Linked DNA regions of Homo sapiens. The protein of the gene in region 1 interacts with the protein of each later gene in a pairwise test. Each region holds a gene or a part of one and is shown in the gene's direction. Other genes may lie near its edges. The genes, in order: NEK6, CTBP2, NIF3L1 and GRIP1.

The links.
Region 2: the proteins of NEK6 (region 1) and CTBP2 interact in binary tests that used the Homo sapiens proteins (3 or more experiments, as listed by UniProt).
Region 3: the proteins of NEK6 (region 1) and NIF3L1 interact in binary tests that used the Homo sapiens proteins (3 or more experiments, as listed by UniProt).
Region 4: the proteins of NEK6 (region 1) and GRIP1 interact in binary tests that used the Homo sapiens proteins (3 or more experiments, as listed by UniProt).

Annotation. Positions count from the first base shown.
Region 1 is NC_000009.12:124,260,949-124,267,974, forward strand, and holds part of NEK6 (serine/threonine-protein kinase Nek6), read left to right. Parts: intron 1-145; exon of another isoform or gene 146-220; intron 221-519; exon of another isoform or gene 520-635; intron 636-1,967; exon of another isoform or gene 1,968-1,997; coding exon of another isoform or gene 1,998-2,070; intron 2,071-2,076; exon of another isoform or gene 2,077-2,552; intron 2,553-7,026. UniProt on the Homo sapiens protein: Protein kinase which plays an important role in mitotic cell cycle progression. Required for chromosome segregation at metaphase-anaphase transition, robust mitotic spindle formation and cytokinesis.
Region 2 is NC_000010.11:125,150,563-125,157,588, reverse strand, and holds part of CTBP2 (C-terminal-binding protein 2), read left to right. Parts: intron 1-5,307; exon of another isoform or gene 5,308-5,383; intron 5,384-5,754; exon of another isoform or gene 5,755-5,815; intron 5,816-7,026. UniProt on the Homo sapiens protein: Corepressor targeting diverse transcription regulators. Functions in brown adipose tissue (BAT) differentiation. Isoform 2 probably acts as a scaffold for specialized synapses.
Region 3 is NC_000002.12:200,892,371-200,899,396, forward strand, and holds part of NIF3L1 (NIF3-like protein 1), read left to right. Parts: coding exon 1-9; intron 10-875; coding exon 876-1,038; intron 1,039-2,893; coding exon 2,894-3,020; intron 3,021-4,705; coding exon 4,706-4,844; intron 4,845-7,014; coding exon 7,015-7,026. UniProt on the Homo sapiens protein: May function as a transcriptional corepressor through its interaction with COPS2, negatively regulating the expression of genes involved in neuronal differentiation.
Region 4 is NC_000012.12:66,676,057-66,682,959, reverse strand, and holds the start of GRIP1 (glutamate receptor-interacting protein 1), read left to right. Parts: upstream 1-3,883; 5' UTR 3,884-4,055; coding exon 4,056-4,110; intron 4,111-6,903. UniProt on the Homo sapiens protein: May play a role as a localized scaffold for the assembly of a multiprotein signaling complex and as mediator of the trafficking of its binding partners at specific subcellular location in neurons.

The DNA of each region.
Region 1 (7,026 bases):
GGCTGGATGCCTGGCCTGTGCTGAGGTTCAGTGTCGTTTTCCTGATCTTACAGAGAGGGAGGTTAAGTAACTTGGGCAGGGTCATAAACCCACAAATGGCAGAGTCGGGATTCGAACCCATGTCTCTGATTCCAGAGTTCCTCACCTTAAACCACATCTGGCTGCCTTTGTCGTGCTTTGCTCCTGTTGCATGCTGCAAAGCCAAGTAGGTTAAGACAGGCTAGGTTCCTGCAGGGCTGGGTTGCCCGAGACCTGGGAGAGGTCTTCCAGAAGGCACTGCTGGCCTTCCTCGCCCAGGGCCAGAGCTACTGGAGAGAAAGGGCTGCTGTTCACATTTTTTCTTTTCTTTAAGTGCCCCAGATACTTTTCATAAGGGAAGTGTCAAAACAATTGTCAAAAGGAGAAGAATATTTCCTTCCTCTTCTCAGGCTAGACCAAGCAAGGGAGTTGGAGGGTGGAGAGTGGAGGGACCTGGTGAATCATCCAAGATTAAATACGGGCAGGCACTGCCAGGCTTGTGTGGAGATGAGGCTGGGACACTGTTCGCAGGAAGAGTCCGGTGTTCTGGCCCCCTGATGTCACCTTCACGGGCCTGACTCACAGTCCTAAATATCTGACAGCGAGATCGCTTGTAGGTAGGCTTCTTGTCACTTGTCATTTAAGTCCCCTGCCTGCCTTTTTTCCCTGCTCATTTCCATTTCGATCACGGCTTCTACTACATGTGCTTGAAATGAATGTTGTGTGTGAGGACCTGTGTGGTTTGGGCCATGTTGTGCCCCCCTGCCAGTGTCCTTCGGTGTTGAAAGGAAAAGGTATTTCTCTCCCTTCCATGTATGTTCTGCAAATTGACGAACATTTGCAAATTGCTTTGAGATGCGTTAATTTAAGGTGTGAAATAATAGATCTTGTGCGAAGGCTCAGCCACATTTCTGGCATTGATGGATTTTTCTCCCGTCTGGCCTGTGATTTGGGGAGGTAAAAATAGTCCTTTTTTCCACATTTTTATCTTTTTTTTTTTTTGCTGACATCATTCTTAGGAAGTGGTGTGCACATGCCGTGGAACTTTACATGGAACATGGAGCTCTGGGGAGCAGGAGTGCTCTTGGAGTGAGGGGTGGTCTGCGGTGGCCCAGGCACCCCCTGGCTGTCCGTGAAATGGCTTTGAAATGAGCAGGCACTGTTGAGGGCCTCAGTGGCTTTTTGGTATTTGGCTGTCTTTTCACTTATGACTCTTGGGTAATGGCAAGATAACTTTTGGGGAAAATGTTAGTTTAAAAAGAAAAAAAATCAGGCCAGCACTTTCACTCATTCCTGTCTGAGCTGGTCCCTTCCTTTGGCCAAAGCTGAACTAAACCAATGGCCTTCTCAGACTCGACTTCCAGACAGAGGAGCCGACATTGGGGCAAATCAGTTGGTGGTGTAATTTCCTGTGATGTTAACTTTGGGAACTTGAACTTGGAGTGGGAGCTAGCATTTTGACATGTGTCCCTCTAACAGGACTTGCTTGTGTGGAAACAGACCCCCACATACATGGCTGCGCCATTGTCTCCAATTCTGGATTTTTCCACAGATGACTTCTCGGGTGATCTGGTGGTAAAGGCACAGGTCTTCTAGCCAGGCCTTCTTGGCCTCCAGCAAGGGCAGGATCACAGCACCCCACCAGACCTGACTGGCCACCACCGCTGTAGCTGTGGCTGGGCGAGTGGGGGGGCCATGGGAATTGAAAGATGGGGTGGCCGAGATCTGAAATGCATTCAGTTGCAGTGGCCTGGATCTGCACGGAGCCGTTCTTTCTTTCTCTTAGACATCTGCATGGTGGTGACCTCATAGAATTCTAAGAAAAAAGGGGCTTTATGTAGGAATTCCATAGAGTGTGAAGGAATTTGGACAGGGGAAGGGGGAGGGAAGTTGCCATTCAGAGCCTGCAGTGCCTGCATTTTCCCCGAATTGTTTAACCCTCATGCTTCAGAATTAGGCTGAGGCTTGCGGGGTGGGTCATGTTGACCTGGGTGAACAGAGATCCCTTTAAGAAGAACTTCTCCATGTTCCAGAGGCGCGTTCTTACTGCAGGTGAGTGGCAGTATGGGAATTAGTCCACAGGCCCCTTCTCGAATGCCTGCCCTCTCTTGTTCCTTGTCCTCAACGTCTTTGAAACTTGGGCTTGTTGGGAAGACACCTGCAAAAGGATGGATGCACATGACCTTCAGCTCTAATGAATCAAGCTGCTGATGAGGAATTCACTGGGCTCCCAATCCAGAGAGCTTCGCACACACCCACTGGGGTTGAGACGAGCACTGGGTTTATTTATTGTGGACTTTTGGAGTCTGAAGGACTCTTGCCACCCATCTGTTTCACGGAACAGAACCTGAGGCTCAGAGGGAGCAAGGCGCTCCCCCACAGCCGCATTGAGAGCCTGAGCCTGGGCACCCGATGGAGTGAATGAGGCTGGAGTCCCAGACCTGCCTCTCATGAGCACGTCGCCCACTGAGCCTCAGCGTCATCATCTGGAAAACAGGGATAATATTATGACCTCAGAAGCTTCGGGGGAGGAAGTAAGTGAAATAATGCATTTCAGATGCTCAGCGCCTTTTAAGTGCTTGATGCTCATTCCCCAAGATTACATGAGAGACATGGAAAATCTTTAATGACCAAGGACCCACCCAGGGTCACTCAGCCGGGACCCTTGGTCCGTGGCCCAGAGTGTCTCCAGTGCCCCTGCATTGAGGCCCTAAACAAGGCCAGAAGCAGGTGCCGGGGACCCCTCTGGATTCCACCAGAGCACCTTCCTAGGATCATGGCTCCCAAAACGGAAGGGAAGGAGACAGCGCAGTTTGCAAAGAGGCAGGATTTAAGCACCAGGGTGGCCCTGTGGCGCCTCAGGAAAATGTTTGCCTGTCAGTATCTGCTCTCGTTCCCACCTGTCCCCACAAAGCGAGGCCATAAGTCCTCGGCGTGGCATTGGAGGGTCTCTGAAGGCCCTGAGAGCTGTGTCAGCCACGGTGTGTTATGAAGCAAGGCAGATGTTTTGTTAATTATTTACACAGCGTCGGCCCCGCAGAGGACTGCGCTGACAGGAGCGGCTGTCACAGGCCTGGCCGTGGGGCAGAAGTGAGCAGCCGTCTTCCCCTGGCAGTCCTCCTGAAAAGGTCTGCATGGCAAGGCCTGAGGGAGTCCTGCACATTTTATGCCCCCGCCCCCCAAAGCCATTTGGGTTTCCCTTAAACTGGCTTGTTTTCCTGAGCCGGTGGAGAGATCCTTGTCCTCCGGAAGTGGCTATCGCTCTGGGGCGGCTTCTCTGCCAGCTCGTCACACCCTAGACCCAGCTGTAGTCTGTGTGGTGGGAGAGGGTGTCACCAGGCTCTGGAGGTCCACTCCTCTGTAGTCACCTCATGCAAGGAGGGCTTCACAGGGGCCCAGCCTCTACTCCCTCATCCGGAAAACGGGCCAGTAACACCAGGCACCAGCCCCGTGATCCTCAGGCACCCTTGGGGGTGATCTGCCTTAGAAATTCAACTTTAGGATTAGAATTCTGCTAAGAGGTACCATGTGACAAAAAAGGTAGTGTAAAAATCACAAAGACCAGGACAGGCTCATGCCTATAATCCCAGCACTTTGAGAGGCCGAGGCGGGCAGATCACTTGAGGTCAGGAGTTTGAGACCAGCCCAGCCAACATGGCAAAACCCCATCGCTACTAAAAATACGAAAAATTAGCTGGGCGTGGTGGTGGACACCTTTAATCCCAGCTACTCGGGAGCCTGAGGAGCCTGAGGCGTGAGAATCACTTGAACCTGGGAGACAGAGGCTGCAGTGAGCTGAGATTGTGCCACTGCACTCCAGCCTAGGCAACAGAGCGAGACTCTGTATCAAAAAAAAAAAAAAAAAAAAAAAAAGAGTTCTGCAAAGAATGGCACCTGGCATCAGAGCTTTCCCTGAAAGGCCACTAAGGATGAGGAACGTGAGCTCCGGGGAGGCGAAGGGGGCAAAGCCACCTGCCTGTTGCCTGTTTTACATAAGGAGGTTTTGCATAGGAGTCATTTTAAGATACATGAAGTAGCCAGAATAGATAAATCCACATAGACCTAAAGCAGATTGGTGGTTTCCAGGGCCTTTGGGGAGGGGAGACTGGGGAGCGACTGATTAAGGGACATGGGTTTTTATTGGGGTGACGCAGACGTTTTGGAACCGGATGAAGGTGGTGGTTGCACAACATTGTGATTGTAATACATCCCATCCAGCGGTTTGCTTTAAAGTGGTTAAATATATCTGAGAAAAATGTTAAACATAAAAGTTTTGGCCAGGCACGGTGGCTCACGCCTGTAATCCCAGCACTTTGGGAGGCCGAGGCAGGCGGATCACGAGCTCAGGAGTTTGAGACCAGCCTGACCAATATGGTGAAACCCCATCTCTACTAAAAATACAAAAATTAGCTGGGCGTGGTGGCGTGTGCCTGTAATCCCAGCTACTCAGGAGGCTGAGGCAGGAGAATCACTTGAACCCAGGAGGCGGAGGTTGCAGTGAGCCGAGATGGCGCCACTGCACTCCAGCTTGGGCAATAGAGTGAGACTCCGTCTCAAAAAAAAAAAGACAAGTTTGTCTTGCTTTAAAAAAAAAAATACCTCTCCTTTTACAGATGGCGACACTGAGGCCCAGAGAGACATCATGACCAGCCTCAGGTCCCACATGCAGCCTGCTGCTCTGTAGCCTAAATCAGATCACTGTCCCAGCTTTCAGGTCAAGGCTCTGGTTGTGACACCTGGGCCTGGACTGCGGGTGAAAAGTTTTGATGCAAAAACACAGACCGTCCATTGTCCTATGGGCTAAGTGGACTCCCTTCTGCTAACCAGAGATGCTTGTGCTGGCTGGTGTGTGGCACGTTATCTCATTCTTTCATGACGTATGTCCGGATGGAAGTCCTGGGTCAGGCATTGTGCTGGGAGCCCACACGAAGACCCTCTAATGGCCCCACCCATTGGCCTCTCACCACCTGGTGGGGACAGAGGCTGTCACAACCCCTTCTTAGGTGCTCTTGATCAATTTGCAGGTGGCATTTTTTGGGATGTAGTCTCTGGGGAAGTAGGAGAGCTTCCGGCAGTGAGGGGTGTTTGAACCCACCTGGAGGGAGACGTGGGGTTTGCCAGAGGGCTGAGAGGGCTGGGGTGAAGGGCAGGTAGACCCCAAGGTGGAGAGGCAGGTGGGGCCGGTGGGTGAGAGGTGGGGCTGTGGAACTTCCTCCTGCTTCTTTGGCCTTTGCTCCTGTCGGTAGATGGCCTTACCAGGCACTTACTGTGGGCCATGTTCTAATCTAACCCTTAACCTGAGGGAACTCACTTCATCCTCCCAGTGATGCCGTGATGTGGGTATCGTTCTGCCCATTTTATAGATGAGGAAACAGAGACCCAGAGAGTCCAGGATCTGTGGTGCTTGACGAGCATCAGCCTGAGTGCTGTGAGGACACCCACAGCATGGGGGTCTGAGCTGAAAATTGGAGGACAGAGGCTGCCCTCCGGAAGTGACCAGGATGTGCCCTCAGGAAGTGACCAGCTGCCCAGCTCAGGACCTGTGTGAGGGCCCCCAGGCAGCTGGAAGGAACAGTGTGCACCCAGGTACCATGCCAGGGCCCCTGAGCATCCGTCTTGTCATCGCATAGTTGTAACCTGCCTCACAGACTGAACATGCACTCTAGAAGGGGATGGGACTTGGTCTGTGGACCACAACAGTGTTCTCCATGGCCAGCATTGTGCCTGACACATAGGAGGAGCTCAATTAATATTTGTTGAGTGAATGGGAAGTTTTAAGTAGGCACGCGGCCGGATCCTTGGAGAATGTTTATATGGAGTGAACGAATCTGTTAGCAAACGTTCCTCACTCCCCTCAGTGGGCTGTGCAGGGCTGTATTGAGCTGAGCTGGCCCTTCCCTGGGAGAAGAGGTTTCTTAGAGAAATGCTCATCCTCGAATTATTCCAATGAGGAGGAACCTAAGCCCAGAAGGGCTCTACCTCCCAGAGTTACAGGCTCTCCTTCCTATGCCCCTTCCCTGCCGAGGCAGCTCCCACATGTCTGCATAGGAGGGCTTTGGGTTGGAATGGGTCAGTGCTGTGTCTTAAAGCTGCATTTTCTACCAAGCACACACTTTGTTTAGAGGGCATATCTTTTGGGGTTGCTTTGAGGAAAGGCTAACCAAGCCACCTCTGAGCACAGACATGACTTTTTGGCAAATGAGCAGGACCCCAGATTACACCCCATCTTAGAAAGTAGGAAACCCAGCATTGAAAGAGGAAAGATTCTGCAGCTGATGTGGCCTTGGCGGGCCACCAGCGTGGGTGCCCAGATGGCAGGATCACTGGGCACCACATGGCACACAGAAGAGAGCAAAGGAGAGGGAGTCCGCCCCTGGGCTTGGCAGGTCCGGTCGAGTCCGCCTGGATTCAGTTACAACAGGACCTCGAGTGGGCACGGCGTGCCGGACTGAGTCAGTGTGTGTACATTTCCTTTGTTCGTCTCCTCCGGGAATGTAGTGGCCTTTTGTGTGTGTTTTAAATGCCAGCCTCCTTACCTAACCCAAGAGGAAATGAGGACTGGGTTTTTGTCTGTGCAGACGCTGGGACAAGTGTGGGAGCCGCCTGCTCTTGGAGCCAGCCTAGTGGTGACAGCGTGGCATTTGGAAAACATTCTGTGGTTTTCTCCAAGGGGTGATGGGCACACCAGGTGCTGGGCCGCCCCTGAGCTGGCCACTGGGACCCTGAAATGAGGAAGCCCTGTGACCAGGTTTCATGATGCCATTCAGCAAGGGACGGCTGAGCACCACATGCCTTCTTGGCCCCTGGGGAAACACACAGGAATCAGATGAGGTCCCTGCCCCGTCTTCCTGGGGAAACATGCAGAGAAAATACTTGTACTCTGAGCTAACACCTTTCACTCGCACAGACCTTTATGGTGTTCTGTGTCTTCAGACATTGATCACCTGTAGGTGAGACACATCATGGCCCCACTTTCCAAACTCCCAAACGGGCTGTGATCTGTAGAAG
Region 2 (7,026 bases), on another chromosome or scaffold:
TGATTGGTTTTTTGTGCCCCAGGGGTAGGGGACCCCAGTTACATCCCTGTGGAAAGCAGTTATTAGAGGGAATTAAAAGATCTTGGGTTTGGAGCTTGTTTTGAACCTGACTAGGTGGTTTGGGTTTAATTCTTTTTCCTGTTCAGAAAGATAAGGTAAAGAATACCGACTCCCCCCCGCTCTTTTTTTTTTTTTAACCCCCACCTGACAACCCCCTCTCTAATTGTACCTTAATAAGAGTCTGCAGGTTGAATGCAGAACCCTGTGAGTTATTTACGGTTTCGCCTGGGAGCTTTGAAACTGACCCTTGAATGGGTGTTCTCCTGCGGGGAGGGGCAGGGTGAATTACCTTTTCTTAACTGATTTTAAAAAGCCTCATTGTCCCTAAAAATCATTTCCTTGCACGAGTTGCAATTTATGTGTGGAACTGAATCATCAATTCCGTGAAGAGAAAGATATTCGTAAAGTACATCTCTCTAAAGTTAAGAAAGTAAGAACGTTTGGCTAGTTAAAAACAAACACTACTGCCATTGTAAAAAACACGCCAGTGACATACTTGGTGAGATATTTTGGCCTTTTGAGAGTCGGGGCACACCTGTTCCTGTCCCTGCCAAGTTGTGTGTGCTTTCCCTGCCATTGTTAATCTGGTCGTGTACACAAGATGAAACGGTAAAACTTGCTATCTGTATAATTATTAACTAGTTTGTCAGTTACCCTTTCAGAGAATAATCAATAACTTCAGTCTTAACTTTTAAAACTCCAGAAATTTTACTTTTTAAGTCTGGAAAATGTTTCAAAGAGAGATTAAATGAAACAAACAAACAGCAACAACAAACAACAAAACCAGAAAATCAACCTACAACTTTTTAGTTTCTGAGTAGCCAGCTACAAGGCAAAGAAATGATGAATATATATAGTATGTACTGAACAAGCAGTGCACTGGATTTTAAAATGATATTTTTATTGTTACCATTGCTGTTAAAATACAAACAGCTCACACTATTTGAAATCCTTGAGATTCACGGATTGAAAAAAAACCGAAAAGGACACCTCTGAGTGAGGGAGTAGCCCTGCTGAGATCTAGCACCAGAATGCCATTTGCCAACAGTTCACTAACATCATGAATCATTTTTGAAAGCAAAGTTATACCCTTTGCACTTAACGCTTTCCCTAAATGGAAAAAATTTAAAGAGTTTACAGCAATGGTAGAATGGCAGCCCCAGTTGTCATTTTTTTACCACTGTCATTTCCATAGAGAGGGGCTGTCATCATAATGTATGTGCATGCAGCCTGGGTCCCTCTGTTAATCTATCAGGGAAAAGCAGCAGCCCTAGTGTCCTGTGGCCCTGAATCAGGCCACAAATATATATTCATACAGCACATGGTTGGGAAGGGAAATTTATCAGTTGGGCAGGGCACAGCTCAGGTAATATTTCCACTTTGGGATGGTAGGTCTGTTACACAGGGTGGAACATATTTTTGTAGTAACTAAAAAATGGGAGGGCAGTGTGTCTGTCCCTGGAAAAAGAAGTATTTGTACTTAATGGAAGTGACCCATGTGGTGAAATCTCGGGGTGTCTTTTCCCCAGCAATCTTTCTATGAATTGCTAGGGGAGGAATGCTTGTGTGAACTTACCCTGCTGAAAACTTTTAGTGGGCACATGAAATGCTGGAATGGATACACTTTTAGAGACTGTGCGGCCTGGCAGATATCAGTTTTCTCCCTTACAGCTGGTAAGCATGTCTTAATTTACGCTGCTGCAAGTTAAAGTTACAGCACTCCTGGAAAGAAGGGAAAATGCAAGGCTTCTCCTCCCCACCTCATCTTTTGAAGTTAATTTTCATTCAAGTCTGTGTTTGATGGAATATGTATCAAAGACTTATGAAAGAGTTTTTTTTTTTTTAATCCTATCTTGGGGTTTGGAAAATTATATTTAATAATTGCTAAAAACTTAAGAACCATTTTAAAGGTGTTCAGTGGCCCTTTTGATCATGATTTAATGGAGAGTATCCAAAAGCCATCAGTGTGACTCTAATGATATTCACAAATTAATGTTTGGGCATAATCTGGAGTTTGCTTTTAGCTATCATTATTAATGTTTAAAGCCTAAATTATGGCTGCACTTGGGCATTCAGAACTTCGCCTGTGAAAAGAAGGGCTTTGCACATTGTGTAAAAAAAAAAAGGGGGGATTCACAAATGAATACAGAATGTACAATAGGGAGAGAGCCAGGCCATTGTTTGTGTGGAATGTTGACCATGGGAGCCAAGGGCTAGTTTCGCCTTCATTCTTCTGACTGCTGGAGAACACAGAAACTTCAGGAGCTGTGGACGGGATGGGAACCAGGGGCACATTCATCCGTCTTTGCCGGGCATGGAGATTTGGCCTGCCCCCTTTCCAGAGTTTTTCTTAGAAGGTGGTCTTTTCTGGACTGCTAAGGAACGTCGTGTGCTTTCTCTTCTCAGTAATCTGCTTTTTTGAGGAACGATTTTAACGGCAGATAGTAAGAGTTCCTCAAGGAAAGTAAACAGACCTTTTCTACCCCCTCGAAATGTGATTTTAGGAAATGATATTCAACTTCAGAAAGGAGGCATCTTAAGTCACAGGAGGAAGTTGTGTTTATTTTTACTCCTCTCCTGACTTTAAAGTAGTTTTTAATCTGTTGGTAGCATTAGGGAGAATGCAGCTAAAATAAGTTTTTGCTGGATGTTCATGTTTTGCGTAGCTGCTGCCATTTCGGAAAAAGCTCCTCCCCCATTCACAAAGCCCTTCTCCTTCCACGTGGGAGCCGAGGTCCCAAAGTGGAACCAACTCTGTAGCTTAAGGGAGGTGCATTCCTGGCCCCTCACTTTCTAACCCTCACCTTAAGTGGAATATGTAGATAATATGTAGATCATTAACCATTGTTGGTGTCTGAAGCCTGTTCAGTTTTTTTAGCAACGACACTCGGTGAGAACCAGTTGTAGTTTGCATGTGTATATGCCTAGTCCCTCCCTCAGTGAATGTTTTAGAAAGTGATCTGCTTTAGCTGTTTACCTAACTAAATTTAACAGATGGTTGCCTAGAGTTGGCTTAATATTCACAAAAATTGTGATGAAATGGTTGGGATCTTATGAATGGGACAAGTGATGATTTTGTTTCTATAGAGAATTGTGACTTTTGTCCTAGGTAATAATAGAGACTTCGTTTTTCCCAAAGATCGGTTGGTGTTTAAAGGATGGGAACCCTGAATAGCTGCTGTTGTCTGCCCCTGATCCTGGTGGTGGCCAGCCTTGCCTTTGGTTTTGTTGCCTTCTGTGAGTCCAGAAAAGCCCTGGAGGCAGGGGTGAGGGGGGAGAGGGAGGGCTGGGCTTTTCATCCGTGGGGTTCTAAAAATCCTTCTCATTTATAAAATACAAAAATACTTACCTTCCATTGTATTGCTGATTTGTGCTTCCTCCAAAGCTCTCCTCTGATCAGCAGAAATGTGCTTCTTGCATTAAAACAAATCCTTAATTATGACTAAAAGAAACTGTCAGCTGCCTTAAAGATTGTCTGGAAATAGTGGCAATATTTCTGTGTCTCATTCCAGCCCACGTTGTGGCAGAAGCCTGGAAGGGCCACGTTAAAGGATGTGTCACAGAGACAGTGTGTGTAGGTCTTCCTGCAGCACAAGCAAGCTCAGGGCTTGTAAAGTCCAGCTTATCGTGGCTGTGCTCCAGCCATGCCTGAAATCTGGCCTCCAGCAATCTGTCCCGTCCCAGGACAAACAAAAACTTTATTATGGAGTCATGGAACCTGAGGAAGTTTCTCTGGAAGGAACCGAAGACCTAGACCGTGGAGGGAGATCAACTCCTCTGGCCTAATGGGGCTTTTCTTTTTCCAAGATGGAATTTAAAAATCTCATCTATAAAATGAGGCTAGCAAAGAATCATTTTATGGTGTAAGTGGCCAGAATCTAACCTGGAAGTGATAGTATTGTACCTGCCGCAGGTGTGTGTGTGGCAGCGGGAGGGTGGAGAGGGGAAATGAGAGGAGAAGAGTTTGGAGGGGAAAACAGAGCATTCGAGGTTTCTCTGCTGGAGGGGGTGAAAGGCCAGGAGTTTGTGCACCTTTCCTTTTAAATGAGCTCTAGCTGTGAGTTTATTATTTTGCTGATGGATGGTCTTTCGTGCAGTCTAGAAGTGCAAACACAGTCGGCTTATCCGCTGCTTGTTCAGGTCCAGGGAGACCAAGGGAACGGGTGGGGGCAGTGCTTGCAAATCCATCTGGATCCTGGACACCCCACTTGGTGTTGCTGCAGCCAGCTCCCAGGCCTGCCCACCTGGAGTACAGCCAGCGCCAGCAGCGGGCAGGGCCCGAGAGAGCTCTTAAAGCCATGTCCCAGGAACGGTTGAGGGAACTGAGAATGTTCAGCCTGGAGTGGAGACACCCCTGGGAAGCCCAACATTGTCCTCTGTGCGGTCATGTGGCCTTACTCTGCTCGGAACAGGGAGGCCTTGCTGTTGGAGCTGCCGGGCCAGATGGGCTGCGTGGGCTCCTGGCACAGGCAGAACTTGGCTGACCATTGGCTCCCAGTGCCAGCCAAGGCTCTGCAAACACCCGAGACCCTGATGGAGACTCAGGCTTTGGGAGCACCTCCTAATGAGCTGGGGAGGATACTGTGTTTTCTTCCCAGTGGGGGGTGACCAATAATCTTAAAGTTTTTTCCCTTTCTCCAGACGTTCAGCTGTGGTCCGCACTCTGGATTGCTCTATCTGCCCTGCGGACTGGATAGAGGCTCAGCGTAGATGCCCAGCTGACCTGACATTTCCTACCCATATTTCCTAGTGTTTCAGGAGCAGGCAGAGACAGACCTGATTCCTTTATCTCGGGGCTTTCAGATTACGGAATAGAAGTCACACTAGGAGGGCAATCAATAAAGAGTATATTTTGCTGTACAGATACCAATATGCACATATAAGTGCCTACAAGTAAAATCTGGGAATGTTTTTGATCTTAAAAACATTTCACAGTCATTAATCTTCACGACGCTCCTGCGGGCTGGGTAAATAGAGCAATTCCTATTTTATGCCAGGAAGAAATATTGAATTGCCTCCCCCAAGTCATAAAGAGGCTGTTTTTCCTCCTTGTTCCTGTGACTCGCGGTGTGGGGGGCCTGGGGCGCCTGGAACCCCTGCGATCCGCTCAGACTGACTCCAGGACGACTTCCGGTGTCCTGCGCGACCTTCTGTTGCGGGGAGCGCCAGTCCGCCACACCTGGCCGCGCTCTACCTGGAGGGGGCGGGGTCTCCTGCATTTCCCGGACCGCGGGGGTGCCCCACCCTGCTGCAAGGACGGGCCTCCTGGCGTCCGGGCTTCTGGGGTCCCGGGGTCCCGGGGTTCCTGGCTCCCGAGCCCCAGGTGAAGCCCCCTCCATCCCTGGGGTTCGCCCCTCTCCTCCCGGCGGGTGGACCTGGAGGCCCCGCCCCCGCGGGCCAGAACACCTGGCGGCGCGGCCCCGCCCCAGCTGTGCCCTCTTCCCCCCGCAGGGCACTTGGCGGCCCCACCCTGGCCCCTCCGCGGGCCGCGGTATCTGACACCCCCGGGCCCCCCCACCTCGCGCCTCGCCTTTACACTTGTAAATGGAGCCGCTTCCCGCCGCGGGGAAGTCGTTGAGAGGTGTGAGAATGGGCCCTGCCCCCTCCCCCCGCTCCGTGCCCACTTCCTCCTTCCTCCCGCTGGCCTTTGTGCTGGGCGGGGCCGCTCGGACCCGGGGCGGCGGGGGTCCAGCTAGACGCCGCCTCAAGCCAGCAGGGTCGCCGGCCCCTCTCCGGTCCGCGAGGCCCCGGCAAGGTAGGAGCCTCGAGACCACGCGGGACACCAGGTTGGCCCCCAGCCCGCACTCGAGGCTCAGAGCAGGGGCGGGGACCTGGTTGCACCAGGCCAGAGCCGCCTCCACCCCGCAGCGGTCGCGGACTCCGGGCACTCATGGGGACTCCTGGGGTCGTGGTGAGTGGTGAGGTTCGTTGATTGACTGCGCGATGGTGGCTGAGTTGCAAGCAAACGGTAAACAGCGGCATCATTTCCACTTGACCGGCTTGGGATCTCGTCTCCTGGGCAGTGTTTGGGGGTGACCACGGTTCTTGGATAACCTTCGAATCTGGGTGTTTTCCTTGTAGTACAAATAGCGCAGTGGCAGTTGCTGTGGGAAACAGCGAGGGCCACTGAGACCTTCAGCAGAACTCCACGTCGAGGACGAGTGACATTTGCGCGCCTCTGCTGCGTTCTCTGCTGTTCACCCCGGCGGCTCCCAACACCTGAAGCCTGGCGAGGCATGTGACTAGAGGTTGTCCGAGCGCAGAGTGGTAGGACGGTGCGATCTGGCCCGTTTCGTCTTGCCCTCGTCTTCTCCATGGAGGAATTTCTGTGTTCGCCTCTATGTTTTGCAGACTTAATTTGGTGCTCCAGAAACTTATGCAGCCATTCAAGTGCGCTCTACCTGTTATTCAAGTAACTAGAGAGCAACCATTTCTTGAGCACTTACTTAGTGTCTGGCACTAGCTCGCTGGGCCATTGTGTGTTGTTGCGTTGCCCTGACTCTTCATTGGTAAAACAGTGACTAACTATCACCTGTGCCTCTGCGAGGACAGCGCTGTGCTTGGCCAGGGCTGGAGAGCCGATCTCAAGGCAGGTGTCTGGCCTTTTCCTGGACATAGTGAGTCTGTGATCCAGAGTCTGACCCACGTATTCAACGGGGCCTGCCTCAGGCTTCCAAACAGGAGCCAGGCTGTTGTGAATATTCACTCCAAAAGTGCAGTGAATGTAAAACATCCTAGAGCAGGAAGTGAGGCAGGCCCCGTTGAATACGTGGGTCAGACTCTGGATCACAGACTCACTATGTCCGGGAAAAGGCCAGACACCTGCCTTGAGATCGGCTCTCCAGCCCTGGCCAAGCACAGCGCTGTCCTCGCAGAGGCACAGGTGATAGTTAGTCACTGTTTTACCAATGAAGAGTCAGGGCCAGGGAGCTTAGGTAATTAAGTCTGGCTAGTTACTACCAACTT
Region 3 (7,026 bases), on another chromosome or scaffold:
AAGGGCTTGGTGAGAAGCCTCTTTCATATTTGATATTTTCCCTGCAAATACTTTGAAACTTTAGGATGTCTTTCCAGTAAAGTTTTAACTGCTTTAGGGTTGGGGAGGGCATGATTCCATTTTTATATAATAATTTTAAAATAATGTTGCTGAAATTTGGCAGTTAAATTGCATTTGAAAAAGGAAACATTTTTTATTCTTATGGAGTAAGGAGAGCAGAAGTCTTCCTTACTGGACTGAGCTTCATGATTCCTCACTTTTGTGGCACAATGCCTGTCACCCAGGCACTTGGAAAATGCTTGTTGAATTGAAAGCTCAGGCCTCTCCAGAATACACTTGATTGATAAGTCAAGTAAATAGACATCAGGGTTTTAATGAATGTTTTTAGTGAATGTTTACTTATGCCTAGCACAATGAGGGAATGATGGATGGATTTTAGCTTTATTTTAGTAAGTCTTTAGTTTACTCATTTTGGGCTAAAGCTTTTATGATGATATCTGGATTAATGTGGTCAAATAAAGTATGAGCATTTGCAACCTGAATGATGGTTTACATGGCTAGATTTACCAAGCAGTAGACCATTCTGTGTATTATCTGAAAATGTATGAATCAGTCTTTCTTGTCCAAGTTTTTCAGAGATTTAAGAATCTTTTGGAAAATAATTCTGAAAATAATTTGATTTTGTATGTCCATGCCAAAGCCCTAGATTATGGGGACTGGTGATGTATATCTAAGGGATGTGTGTATGTTATGTAAGCATGAGAATGAATCTTTTTAAAAAGTCATTTCTTAGAAATTTTGCCTATAATAGTTTACTTTTAAATCTTAATCTCTCACCCCCCAAAACTCCCATTTTCCCACAATATTTTCTCTAGGAGCTTGTACCTCCAGGCCCATACATCCTTCCAAAGCTCCCAACTACCCTACAGAGGGAAACCACCGAGTAGAATTCAACGTTAACTACACCCAAGACCTGGACAAAGTCATGTCTGCAGTGAAAGGAATTGACGGTGTTTCTGTCACTTCTTTTTCTGCTAGGTACAATTTATTTTTCTCTTTTTTTTGTGTGTATTTATTGGTAAGCATCTTCCTTACAAAGTCTATAACCCTGGTATTTAGGCTTGAAACAAATAGTTTTCTCTGGAGTTGATTTACAAAGTAGCATACTCCTCATTTGTTTGTGGGTCCTGGAGAACTATGGAATTTTTTCAAAACAATAAAAACGGTAAGTAACACTAAGTATTTTCTATGTCAGGGGACTATACTATGCATTTTACCTACAGTATTTCTAATCCTGGTAATGTTCAAAGATAGTTGTTTTTACTTTAGAGAATACAGATAGATCCTAGTGATGTGGTGATAAGGCTTTTATTGGTTCCCAGCAAATCAGTGATTCCCAAGTGCTTTTTTATATTTATCTTTACATTTTAAATATATATTTTCATAAATCAGTCTTTTTATTTAACATCATGGGAAATATTTTTCTGAATAGTCTTTTTTTGTTTGTTTTAAGAGACTCCCAGGCTGGGCACGGTGGCTCACACCTGTAATCCCAGCACTTTGGGAGGCCAAGGCTGGTGGATCACCTGAGGTCAGGAGTTTGAGACCAGCCTGACTAACATGGAGAAACCTCGTCTCTACTAAAAATACAAAATTAGCTGGGCGTAGTGGCGCATGCCTGTAATCCCAGCTACTCAGGAGGCTGAGGCAGGAGAATCACTTGAACCCGAGAGGCGGAGGTTGCAGTGAGCCGAGATCGCGCCACTGCACTCCAGCCTGGGAGACAGAGAGAGACTCTGTCTCAAAAAAAAAAAAAAAAAATGCAGATTTTTGTATTCACCTCAGACCTTATAATTAGAATGGAGTTTGCCTGAGAATCTGTCCAGGACATTCTCAAATTCAATGATGTTTTAAAATTATCATCTCTAAGGCTTTAAAAAAATTCATTTTGCCCCAGCCCCATTTGTAGATGTTCTGTTCACTGGTTCTGTGGAAGGATCCAGCAGCTGTTATTTTAAGAAGCTAGAAGGAATTTTTTTTATTTTTTTGAGACAGAGTCTCACTCTGTTGCCCAGGTTGGAGTGCAGTGGTGTGATCTTGGCTCACTGTAACCTCCGCCTCCCAGGTCCAAGTGATTCTCCTGCCTCAGCCTCCCCAGTAGCTGGGACTACAGGCACCCGCCCCCCACCACGCCCGGCTAATTTTTTTTGTATTTTTGGTGGAGATGGGGTTTCATCATGTTGGACAGGCTGGTCTTGAACTCCTGATCTCAGGTAATCCACCTACCTTGGCCTCCCAAAATGCTGGGATTACAGGTGTGAGCCACTGTGCCTGGCCTTCTTTTTTTTTTTTTTTTTAACTTTAATTTTTTAATAATTAAAAAAATAATAAGATAGGGTCCTGCTATGTTGCCCAGGCTGGTGTTGAACTCCTGGGCTCAAGTGACCCGCCCACCTTGGCCTCCCAGAATGCTGAGATTACAGATGTGAGCCACTGCACCTGGCCAAGAAATTTCTGATGCACAATCGGGATTGAGAACAGTTCTTGAACAGTGGTTTCAAAGTGAGGTCCTTGGACCAGCAACATCAGCATCACCTGGAACTTGTTAGAAAGGTAACCTCTCAGACCCCCACCTAGATATAATGAATCAGAAACTCCAGGGGTGGGGCCCAGCACTCTGTGTTTTAATAATCCTCCAGGTGATTCTGATGCCCAGTAGAGTTAGAGAAATGCTATTCTAGAAAATGGATTAGTTTCAGATTAAATGGGTTCTGTTGGTTAAATCCTTGGTTCCACATAAATCTAATCTATTATAGTAGGTTTGTAAACTGTGGATTATCTAAAATACATTTTGGCTATATTTGTCCTAAATGGAGTGATTTTTCCCCCCTAGGACTGGTAATGAGGAACAAACACGGATTAATCTGAATTGTACTCAGAAGGCTTTGATGCAGGTGGTAGATTTTCTTTCCCGGAACAAACAACTTTATCAGAAGACGGAAATTCTGTCACTGGAGAAGGTAATAAGAATATTTTGTATTTGATCTTAAAATACTGTGCACACATTTTCTAACAGTATAATTGAGGTATAATTGATATACTTAGGTATATTGAGGTATACCTTATTGAGGTATAATTGATATACTAAGAATTGTACATATTTGATGTGTACAATTTGATGAATATCATTACTTTGCATTTTTCTTCAGCAAATTCATTTGTAAATTATTAGATCAACAGGCCATTCACTGTTATCTAAAGTACAAAATGGCAATGAGAGCATAATATTCTCTAGGAAGTAATTGAGAAAGGGAGACATTCCAGGAACAGGAAAATATTGGTACGTCTTCAGGGTTACAGATTTGGTTACAGGTTTGCTGTCTCCTTATTTTACACGCTCTGCCTGGACCATGTCATTCACTTCTTTAACTTGATAGCCATTTGTATGATGATTTCTATCTTTACTTTTTGGCTTAGAATGCTTTCTTAAGGGAAAAAATGACAAGAACCCATATTTTCATCTACTTTCTGGATGTTTTGCACTTACAGAGCCCACAAGTATTTCAAATTCAGTATATCCAAATACTTTATCCGTTTGCCACCCCCGCTTTTTTTTTTTTCCATATTTCATATTTCAGTATCATTATCTACTTTAGTTTCCAAGTTTTCACATTCCTCCTTGACTCCAGGCCCTGCTGAGTCTGGCCTCATATCTATACAGTGTTTCTCCTCTGTATTGGCTCTGCCACCACAGTAGTTGAAACTCTCATTTTCTGCGATGAGAGTAGTCTCACCGAGCACCTAGGAGGCAGTCCAGGCTCTTTAGCATGGTGTTGGAAGCCCTTAATGATCTGCTACAGCCTGGGCCTCCAGCCTCCTCTCCTTCCACAGCATGTACTCTGCACAGTAGCCATACTGTCTTCTTTTGGATCTGCCCCCATAGTGTGTTCTCTCAAGTTTTTGGCACCTTTGTCCATGTCCTCTGTGTTTAGAATGCCTTTCTCCATCTCATCGTACCTCTGTCCTGCCACACTGCACTTGACATCACCCCTTTTTAAACTCTTTATTTCCCCCTTTTTAACTCTTTTAGGGTTTTCTCTAAGACCTAAGTCCTTCCTCCAAGTACTCCCCAAGCCTCCTAAGTCACAGCTCATTTAGTTTGTCATTCTTTGTGCTGCTGCAACTGTAGCACCTACCTTGTATTTAAACAGTTTTATTATTTTGTTTATTTGAGACAGGGTCTGGCTCTGTCCCCAGGCTAGAGTGCAGTGGTACAATCTCAGCTCACCACAACCTCTGTCTCCTGGGTAGCTCAAGCCCACCTCCCATTCAGCCTCCCAAGTAGCTGGGACTGCAGGCGCACGCCACTGCCTGGCTAATTTTTGGATTTTTTTGTGGAGATGAGGTCTCACTATGTTGCCCAGGCTGGTCTCAAACTCCCGAGCTCAAACAATCCACCCACCACAGCCTCCCAAAGTGCTAGGATTATAGGCATGAGCCATCGCGCCTGGCCTGATTATTGATTTAAACATCTGCCTTCCTAGAAAACTGTGAACTCCTAGAAGAATGATTTTGTCAGGTTTGTATCCCCACATTTAGCCTGGAGCTTGCTATAGTAATCTCACAGTGTGCATGTTGATGATTTTAGCATTTGTTGTTTTAGGACTAACAATGCACACCGTTTCTAACTTCTGTTTCTCCTCAGCCTTTGCTTCTACATACTGGAATGGGACGGTTATGCACACTGGATGAATCTGTCTCCCTGGCAACCATGATTGATCGAATAAAAAGACACCTAAAACTATCTCATATTCGCTTAGCCCTTGGGGTGGGGAGAACCTTAGGTAAATATAGCTCCTTCATCTATCCAGTATGCCTACTGTTAACATTGGACAAAGATCGAAACTCTTGGTTGTATTAATATGTGATAGAGAATGTGTTAGCAGCTCATAGGAGATAATTGGTTTACGTTATTGATTAGGGTGGGCCAGGTTCTGATGTGGAATACATCTCATTGACTTAATCAATGAGATTTATTTCTCTGTCATGCTATGTGTTCATTTCAAGTTGGTCATTGTAGGAAGTCTGACCATTGTAGACTGGTTGCTGTTGCAGAGGGAGGGAGTTTTGCAGGGTCTTAAACCATCAGTTTAAAATTCCAGGAAACATGTTAATTTCTGCTCAACTCATTTTCCAGAATTAGTCATGTTGCCCAATACAAGCAAGGGAGGCATAAAGTGCAGTCTTACCATGTGTCAGGAAGAGAGCTGGAATCATGATTGCTACAATTACAACATAAACTTTGCACTTATAAGACTGGTAATATTTTCTAGTGAGGTGCTACTGAGTGATCTGATCCATTGTAGTTTCTAAGTCTTGTAGTTTTTTCTTCTGGCCTTTCCTGGTACTTTTGAGAACAAAAAGAGTGAACAGACATTTGTTCAACACCTTCAGTGAGCCTAGCACTGTACTGATTGTCTGTCCTAAGTACGTGAGCTCCTGCTGGCAAAAGCAGTGGGGTACAGCGGTTATAGGTGTGGATTCTGAGCTTAGACAACCTGGCTTCAGATTTGTCTGTCCTGTTTGCTGCATGTCTTTGACAAGTTTATGCCCTCTGTGTCACAGTAGCCTCATCTGTAAAAACTGCATTAATAAAACCTAACTCAGAAGGTGGTAGTATAATCCATGTGACATGGCACAGTGATTGGCTCACATTAAGTATAAAGTGCTAGCTGTTGTTAGTTTTGTGGTTGGTACTATTTCTCCCATTTTATAGGTGAACAATTGTGGTTCAGAGAGATAAGTAACTTTATTAGTTCGTTCTCACGCTGCTATGAAGAAATACCTGAGACTAGGTAATTTATAAAGAAAAGAGGTTTAATTGACTCACAGTTCTGCATGGCTGGGGAGGCCACAGGAAACTTACAATCATGTTGGAAGGCACCTCTTCTCAGGGTGGCAGGAGAGAGAATGAGTGCAAGCAAGAGAAATGCCAGATGCTTATGAAACCATCAGATCTCGTGAGACTCACGCATTATCACAAGAACAGCATGGGGGAACTGCCCCCATGATCCAATTACCTCCACCTGGTCCCGCCCTTGACCCGTGGGAATTATGGGGATTATATTCAAGGTGAGATTTGGATGGGGACACAGAGCCAAACCATATCAGTAACTTATCTAAAAGTCCAGTTAGATCAAACAACCCAAGGGAGTTAGTGTCCAAAGAAAATGGATAGCAGAGGTGGGATTTGACTTCCAAAATAACTCCAAAGCCCCCTCTTTGAGATACCCTGCTGCTGAACTGGAGTGTCCACTAAAGTGTTCATTTTAGAAACCCAAGTGCTAAATACTTGGATTTTGGCTCGAAAGTTGCTGTTATTTCACTTTCCAGAGGATGCTTTTTGAGAATAAATAGTATATTTAAAAATAGTGCCAAATCCATTTGTAGCATTCCTCTTTTTATAGTCCTTTTAGTTCCTTAGCTTCCTCACCTGAGAATAGAGATAGTACTTGCTTACCTCTCACTGTTGTCTGAAGACCCAGGTGAGATTATTTTACCTAGCACTGTTGCAATACAGCCTAGAGCTGCACCATTAGTACTATTCAGTGGTTTGTGAGTTTGTGCAGCCATGTCCAAAGGAATAACGGTGCCCCCTTCAGCAGCACATATACTAAAAATTGGATGATATAGATTAGCATGGCCCCTATGCAAAGATTACACGCAAATTTGTGCATTGTTCCGTATTTTGCGCAATTTACAAAGGTTGTTGAAAAAAAAAAACACAACAAAGGAATAATAACCATGCCTTGGGTTAGCTATGCAATATCAAAGAATGACCTGTTTGCTTATATTAAAACATGTTTTTTTTAAAATGCAGTAAGAACAATTCATATACTGGTGATGAGACCAGGAGTGAAATCTGTATTATGTTTAGGATTCTTGGTACAAATTATAATAGTAAAATGAAAGGGAATTGTAAAGTATTGGTCTCTTGTTTCCTCTGTTTTGAAGAGTCTCAAGTCA
Region 4 (6,903 bases), on another chromosome or scaffold:
CAGCATGCAAAGGAAAAGAAATGTAATAGTTAAATGAATAAGCAAATAAATGGGATCTATCAGGTATATTTTGTAACAGAAAGATTTATGAAGTTGAAGAAAGTGCAAATTATTTTAGCACTTTAATCAAATTGATTCTAATGATATAAAATAGTTGAGTATTTGTGGGATTAACCTCATTGTTTTGGTTTTTTGCAAAATGAATTTCCAGGTTTAGGCATATGGCAGAACATTTTTGGTTTATGATGATTCTTTCTTGTTAAGAATCAGAAGAACCTCCAAACAGCGCTATTTATTTTTGGGATGGAGATGTTATATAAAAGAATGAATACAATGGCGGAGAATCAAGGAAATGAGAAAATTAGAATAAGATTATGGGGCTATGTGTGCCACCTGCTGATGAAGCTGTGGAATGCTTTGGTTTTGAGACTATATTGGAATCTTTGAGCCAATCTTAAGGTTTTGTTTGTCCATACACCACAACCCACCCCCTTCTTATGATAAAATTAGTACCATATTGTCAATGGAGGTGATATTCCAAATATTTCAAAACCAGCATGACACAGGCCAGTCAGGATGGGCTAACCATGCAGTGAGAAGGGATTCCTGTAAACACTTGATACGTAATGGTCTTTCACCAGACGGTACTTGCCTTAACTGTCACCTGTTTCTGGTTCCTTCTGGTCAGGGTGGTCCTAGAACCATGAGCTGTGCTTCAGAGGGGAGAAGGTGATAGGCACTAGTTTTTCCCTCTGTCAAAAGATAACTGCACTTAAAGGTACTTTGTTAATTGAATTTGTCCCCCTGTAAACTAGATCACATTTTGTATTGGTGGCAAGGAAGCAGTGAAAAACAAGAGGAGAAAGAATGATTAGCCAGGGGTGAGAAGCTATGGTTCTTTCCTGTTCTTTACCACTTACTAGCTGAATGACTTTGATGAAAAACACCTTCTCTGAAACCAGTTTTCCTTTTCTGCATCAAAAACCTATAACAGAGTCGCTCCATGATACATTATGTGTGAAAGTGCCTTCTAATTCATTAAATTCTATGTAAACGTGGTACACTTGTATTACACCTTAGCAAAACTAATGTTTTAAAGAAACCCTGAAATAAGAATTATCATCTTAAGGGACTAGTCTGCCCTGAATCCAGCAAACCCATGTTTTCATGTATTGAGGTGTTTGTGTTTTTAAGAGGGGTAAACCTCTTGAACTAGCTCACTCACTCTTCTTCAGATCACATTGGGGCTTAATCAAATCTGTATTTTGTACAATTTTACCTGCCTTCTTTTTCCATAACCCCTACTTGGTGACCCTCACAGAGCATGTTGTAAAGTTTGAACTGTCTAGACAGCTGAGCCACCATAATTAACATGTTCATGACAGGTCCCAAAGACACATGCTTACATTGATCTGGTAGCCAAGAAATGTAGGTCACTCTGCCTTGTAGTAGCTCATGTTAGGAGCCTGTGGTCCACATTCCACCGGTTGCCTTGGCCATTTGAGACCTTCATCCTACAGATCGATACATTTTGAGATAGAAGGCTTGCATTGTTGGAAGGCATTTTACCAGTGCTAGAGTTCAGGATGGGAGGCTAAGCTTGCATTAGGCAAAGGGAGGACAAAGGGTTTAGGGCAAGAAGGTTGACCTGGGAGTGGCTCCCCAGGAAATCTCCAAGCATTAGCGAGGCCAGAAATGGAAGAAGATGGGAATACCTGGTGAATTCGTTCATTTTCTGGAAAAGAATTACTCCAGGAGGCTCCATTTCTGTAAGATTCCTGGGGCTGCACCTGGGCAGACTAATAGGATAGATATGGATTGGCAGCCACAGTATTCAAAGAGAGAAAAAACAATCCCCTAGTTTGGGCTCTCAGAAACCTTTCAAAGAGCTCCATGATGGGTTATTTCCCCTGCCAAAGAAATAGGACATTTTAGTAGTTCTGAAGACCTTTCTTGGGACCAGAGGATAGAGCTTTTAAAACAAAACAAAAAAAATAAGCATATTAGGAAAAGGGGAAAATATTTGATCATTTTAGTCATAAGGAAAAAGCAAATTGGATTTGAGTCTGCAAAATAGCAGAAGGCAAGAGATTCCTGTATGGTTTTGAGTTGTATTTGAATAGACTGGGCTGGGGTGGTGGTGTTCCACAGGCAAGATTCTACTAATAGTAATTGACAGCTGCGTATTCTGAGTGCCTGGATTTTAGGAAATATGTTAGATTTGGAGAAGAATCTTGGAAAGAGCTAACTGTAAGTATTTATCTCACTTTAGCTAGTAACTCAGTTCTCTAGTACTAAGGTATATTTCTATTTAAAGCAAAAAAATATCAAGGAGGCTAAACTATTTCTAGGGATAACCTAATAGAGATGAACATAATATGGGTTGAAATTCAAAGAAAGATTTATGCTAATCAGAACAATTATAAAAATTTGATTTTGCACTGCAGTCCATTTAATATAGTATTTTCTATTGATTAGTGGTTGCTTTAGCTAGACCATCCTTGGTAAAAGAATTCTGTTCTTTTCAAAAACCTTTAAAGTAGATGCTTATGATATTCAGATGTTTTTCACACACAAATTATTTTTCTATTGGACTCAAAATACAAAGCATATGCATTTCAATAGCAGTGGATTGAAATTGTTTGAGTTCATATTGAATTTATGAATGAAGAAAAGAAAGTTTTACCACTAAATTTGGAATGTTGGAAGTTATTTTAAAAACCAGCTTGAAAGTTTTTTCACAGCCTGAAGAGTAGAGAATAAAACTGTATGAATAATTCATAAAGTCCTAGAAATATTAATCAAGTAGTTTAGACAGTGATATATCTTTTCATTTTGACTAATTGATTTTTTTTTTCTTAAACTTCCTGGCCAACTGTCTAATTTTTTGTCCTGAATGTTTATGTTAACTCCTGTGGGAGAATTCTGGATTTTGATTAAAATTCCCTACCAAATGTTAGTTCGTATTGACTATATGGCGAGCAGGCTGCTGCTGGCAGATGAGGAGGTGTGCTCCGCCTTCTTATCACTTTGTGAATGGATTGTGAAGGGTTTGTTAATTTGCTCTTCACTCCATTGGAGCAGATACTCACAAATATCTGCTATGTCGCAAGACCGTTTTATTTGCATAATGAGAAGAATGGTTTGGGGGATGGTTGTTTGGGAAATAGTATAATAAAGTATATTAAAAATAGAAATACTTGGCCTTGTTTGCCTTTATTTCTGGTATCTTTAGAAACAGTCTTGACTGTGTTGCTTTCCAGCCAAGTCCTTTTTTGGAAGGGTGATTAAAGGGGCTGGGACTCCATCTGCCTGATTGTCTGCCTAGCCCTAACCCTTTCTTGTATTCCCTCTATAAACAGACACTGCCTTAACTCTCATAGGTTCAGGAAGTACCAAAGAGGTCTCTGTCCTAGAGCTGCTTCCCCGCTATAGGCAGAACTGTGATTCTTTCCTCAATCCCAAATATAAACGGCCCTCCCTCTTTTTCTTTCCTTTTTTTTTTTTTTTTTTTTGGTTGTTGTTTAAAGAACATAGTACATGACCCATGCATTTCTTCCTAAAGTAAGAGTGTAAGCATTTCACTTGCATTTCCCATTAAATGAGACATATAAAGGACACTGACTTGATGCTGAGAAGGAAAGGGGCTGATGGTGGCTGAACTGACTGGATACATCGCCTTTTGCCTTAAACAGAATGCACTGTTCAGTGCTTAGCGTTAGATTTATGGAATGGCTCCTCACACAGTGTCGTCCCTGCTTTGTACAATTTGGTGCTTTGTTGCTATCGAAACGGCATTACTTTCTAAGCCATTGTGATTGTGAAGGGGGAGGAGGCTGTGGCAGGCAGGGGTGGTAGTAGTAGTGAATGACACAGATTTGCCAGATGACATGTAGCGGACCTCTGCATCAGCCAAGAGGAATTAAGCTTTGTCACTCCCCACTGGGACTACCTTTCTCCTGGTATGTGCGCAAGGAATTCATATGCTGCTGCTGCTGCAGCCACCAGAGCAGAGAGCCTTGAGTACACTTTGCCACAGAAAGCAGTGAGCAAGAATGATAGCTGTCTCTTTTAAATGCCGTTGTCAAATTCTGAGGCGACTTACTAAAGGTATCGTGCTTTCCTTGTTATTCCCTCAGCGAGTCTGTTGCAGTATCCTATAAACACAGTTTAATGGTTTTTACTTTCAAATATGACTGCCTTTGCAATTTATTGTCAGGCAACAAAGAACTCAGTGAAATATGTATAGATACATATGTACAGGTAGACTCGGCTTTGCTTTCTGTCCTTACATCTCGGTTGTGTTCGTGCTGAAATTATGAAAGCAGCTTGTGTGATTTTTTTTTTAATGACTTCATTCTTTGCTGAAAAGAGAATGTGTTTGGGTCCGGTGCTGAAGTTATTGTGGGAAACCGTCATTTTGCATGCTGATTAACTGGCCAAAAGGAGTCAAGTGTGTGTTACTGTCCTTTCTATGATACATATACTAAATGCAGCTGGCAGATTCAGGACTCGCACAGCTGGTGGATCCACAGAATAATTGTTTGTTCTATGACTTTCCAACATCTTAAGAGCTTTTTCCCTGGACAGCTTTAATTTCTTTATGTGTTAGAATTGCATGTTCAGAAAAGTATGTAATTCCAAATGCTTTGGTCCTATGTAATACTAGAAGTTTATTTGAAAGTAAAAATCATTGCTCGGAATCTTATCATCAAGAATTACCAGCTTCAGATTGTCACTCTTAGAACTCTAAAATAGTAATTAAATTTCTCTGTAATATTTAAGGTATTATTTTATTTGAAACCATTCTGGATGTGCCATCTCGTTTACTTTGTGAGCATTCTATTGCAAAGTTAGTAAATGGATGCCTTAAAAATCCTGCCTTGTGTCCATATAGATATGTGAGCTCTCTTGCCTTATTTCCTTTAGATAGAACCTTCCTTAGAGAAAATTTATTATTTAAAAAAAAACTTCATTCTGAGTAAAAGTATTTAGTTGCAAATGCCTTTCTTTTTCAGCCTGTAATATAGAGTACTGTTGAGTAATTAATGGATATAATTATGTTCTAGAAGCTCTGAACCTATAAATATGTTAATGGATGCTATTTCTGTCAGTTTAGCTTGACATATCAGAATTCTTTGATCACCAGCAGTGCAGCTAAAAATGCAATTAATATTTTATCTGGCAGAAGAATGAGCACAAAGCAAATCATGAGAAATAGATCTTGAGTCAATAACAGGAAAGAGAATAAATACTGTAGACCAACTTACCGAATGCATTTGCAAGTTGTTTGGATAGCAGAGTGAGTCCTTTAAAAGGTACTTTGGGGGAAATGTAGGGAAGATTATACATTTTAAATTAGGCTATTAGCAGGAGGCTGTAAATTCTGTTTTGACTTTATCCTCTACAATTGGTACAGACGTACAATTTCTGTTTATAAATCATGACTAAGAGACTATCCTTTCTGTTACGGTTTTGGCTGAGACTTTTAAAGGCAGGCCCTTATTCTGAAAAGTTCTTTTCTGACCTGATTTTGGCATTTACTTATCTTGATGTTGAGAAGTTGATGGTCTTCTTACATCATAAACATGAAACAATCAGTATTTTCTATTCATCTGTATCAGTTCTTTTATAAGTACTACATACAAGGAAGAGAGTGAACCCAAGCAATTTATAGTTCTTACAAATATTTTTAACTTTCTCAGTTTTCTGAATTTTATGGAAGCATTGATCTCCTGCATTGAAAGGAGATTTAAGTGTTTACTAAGATAGTCGCTAAAAATCTAGATAATTGAGGAAAGTATTGATAACTGCTTTGGAGTTGCTACCTCACACTTTTTTCCAAAATCTTTATGTCTGCTCTATTTGGTATTTAACTTAAGACTGTCAGTTGATGATTAAAATAAAATCTCTTTGCAGAATCAATTTGCCATAATTGGGTTCTTCTTTGTGTTTAACTGGCTGTCCAAATACTTACAAGAATGCACCTGAGTAACACGGTACCTTGCCTTGCCATCTGCTTCAGTCTTGTCCAACAACGTTCAAGTTCCACCCATGCTTCTTGTTCCAAAGTGGATTCATTGAGTTCTAGCACCCCACCCATACTTGTGGTGCTGTTTTCTTAAGCTGTAATGATAAAACCAGGAAACATATGTAATTACAATATTAAAATGACCTTTCTTTTAGGGTCAGGAGTGTATTTGGGGACAGGGGTGGATATACACTTGAAGTTTCTTTCTTGTCCCATTCTCCCTACTCACACAACTCCCACACCCTCACCCTCAACTCCCAAACATACATATTTCTTTATACCCATTGAGGGCTCCACCTAACACTCACTCTTCCAGACATTTAGCACAAGGCATTACACTTAGTAGGCACTTCAAAACTGTTTGTTAAAATGAATTGGATTTGTCTAGTTGAAAGTAGTAGGGCATTTAAATCTTCTGTGAGCTCTTAGGAAATGCTTCAAGAGCTTTATTAGGCCTCTTGTGGCTAAAACCTTACCCAGATCTTAGCAGGGGGAAGTTTGCTTCATGACTCCAAAACTACCTTGCTATTTGTGGTTGATATCACCCACAAGAAAAAGCAATATGGCAATTGCAATTTCTTCTTAATTTTCTTAAGGAGAAAATGATGGAATAAAAGGGAAACAATTTTCTACAAACACCCACATTCTTGATATTTTTACTTGATTCTTACATTCTTCATATATCTAATACATACTTAACAAATATCGATTAAGTACCTACTATGTGCCAGACACTGACATTTTTGCACTTAGAATTCTGGGCTGGGACAATTTATAGGTGTAAAAAGCATTTTTAAAATGAATATATTATTGAACAATAAATATTTTTTCTTTAGGTCAGATGTAATTTTAAAAGATGTATAAAACATGTA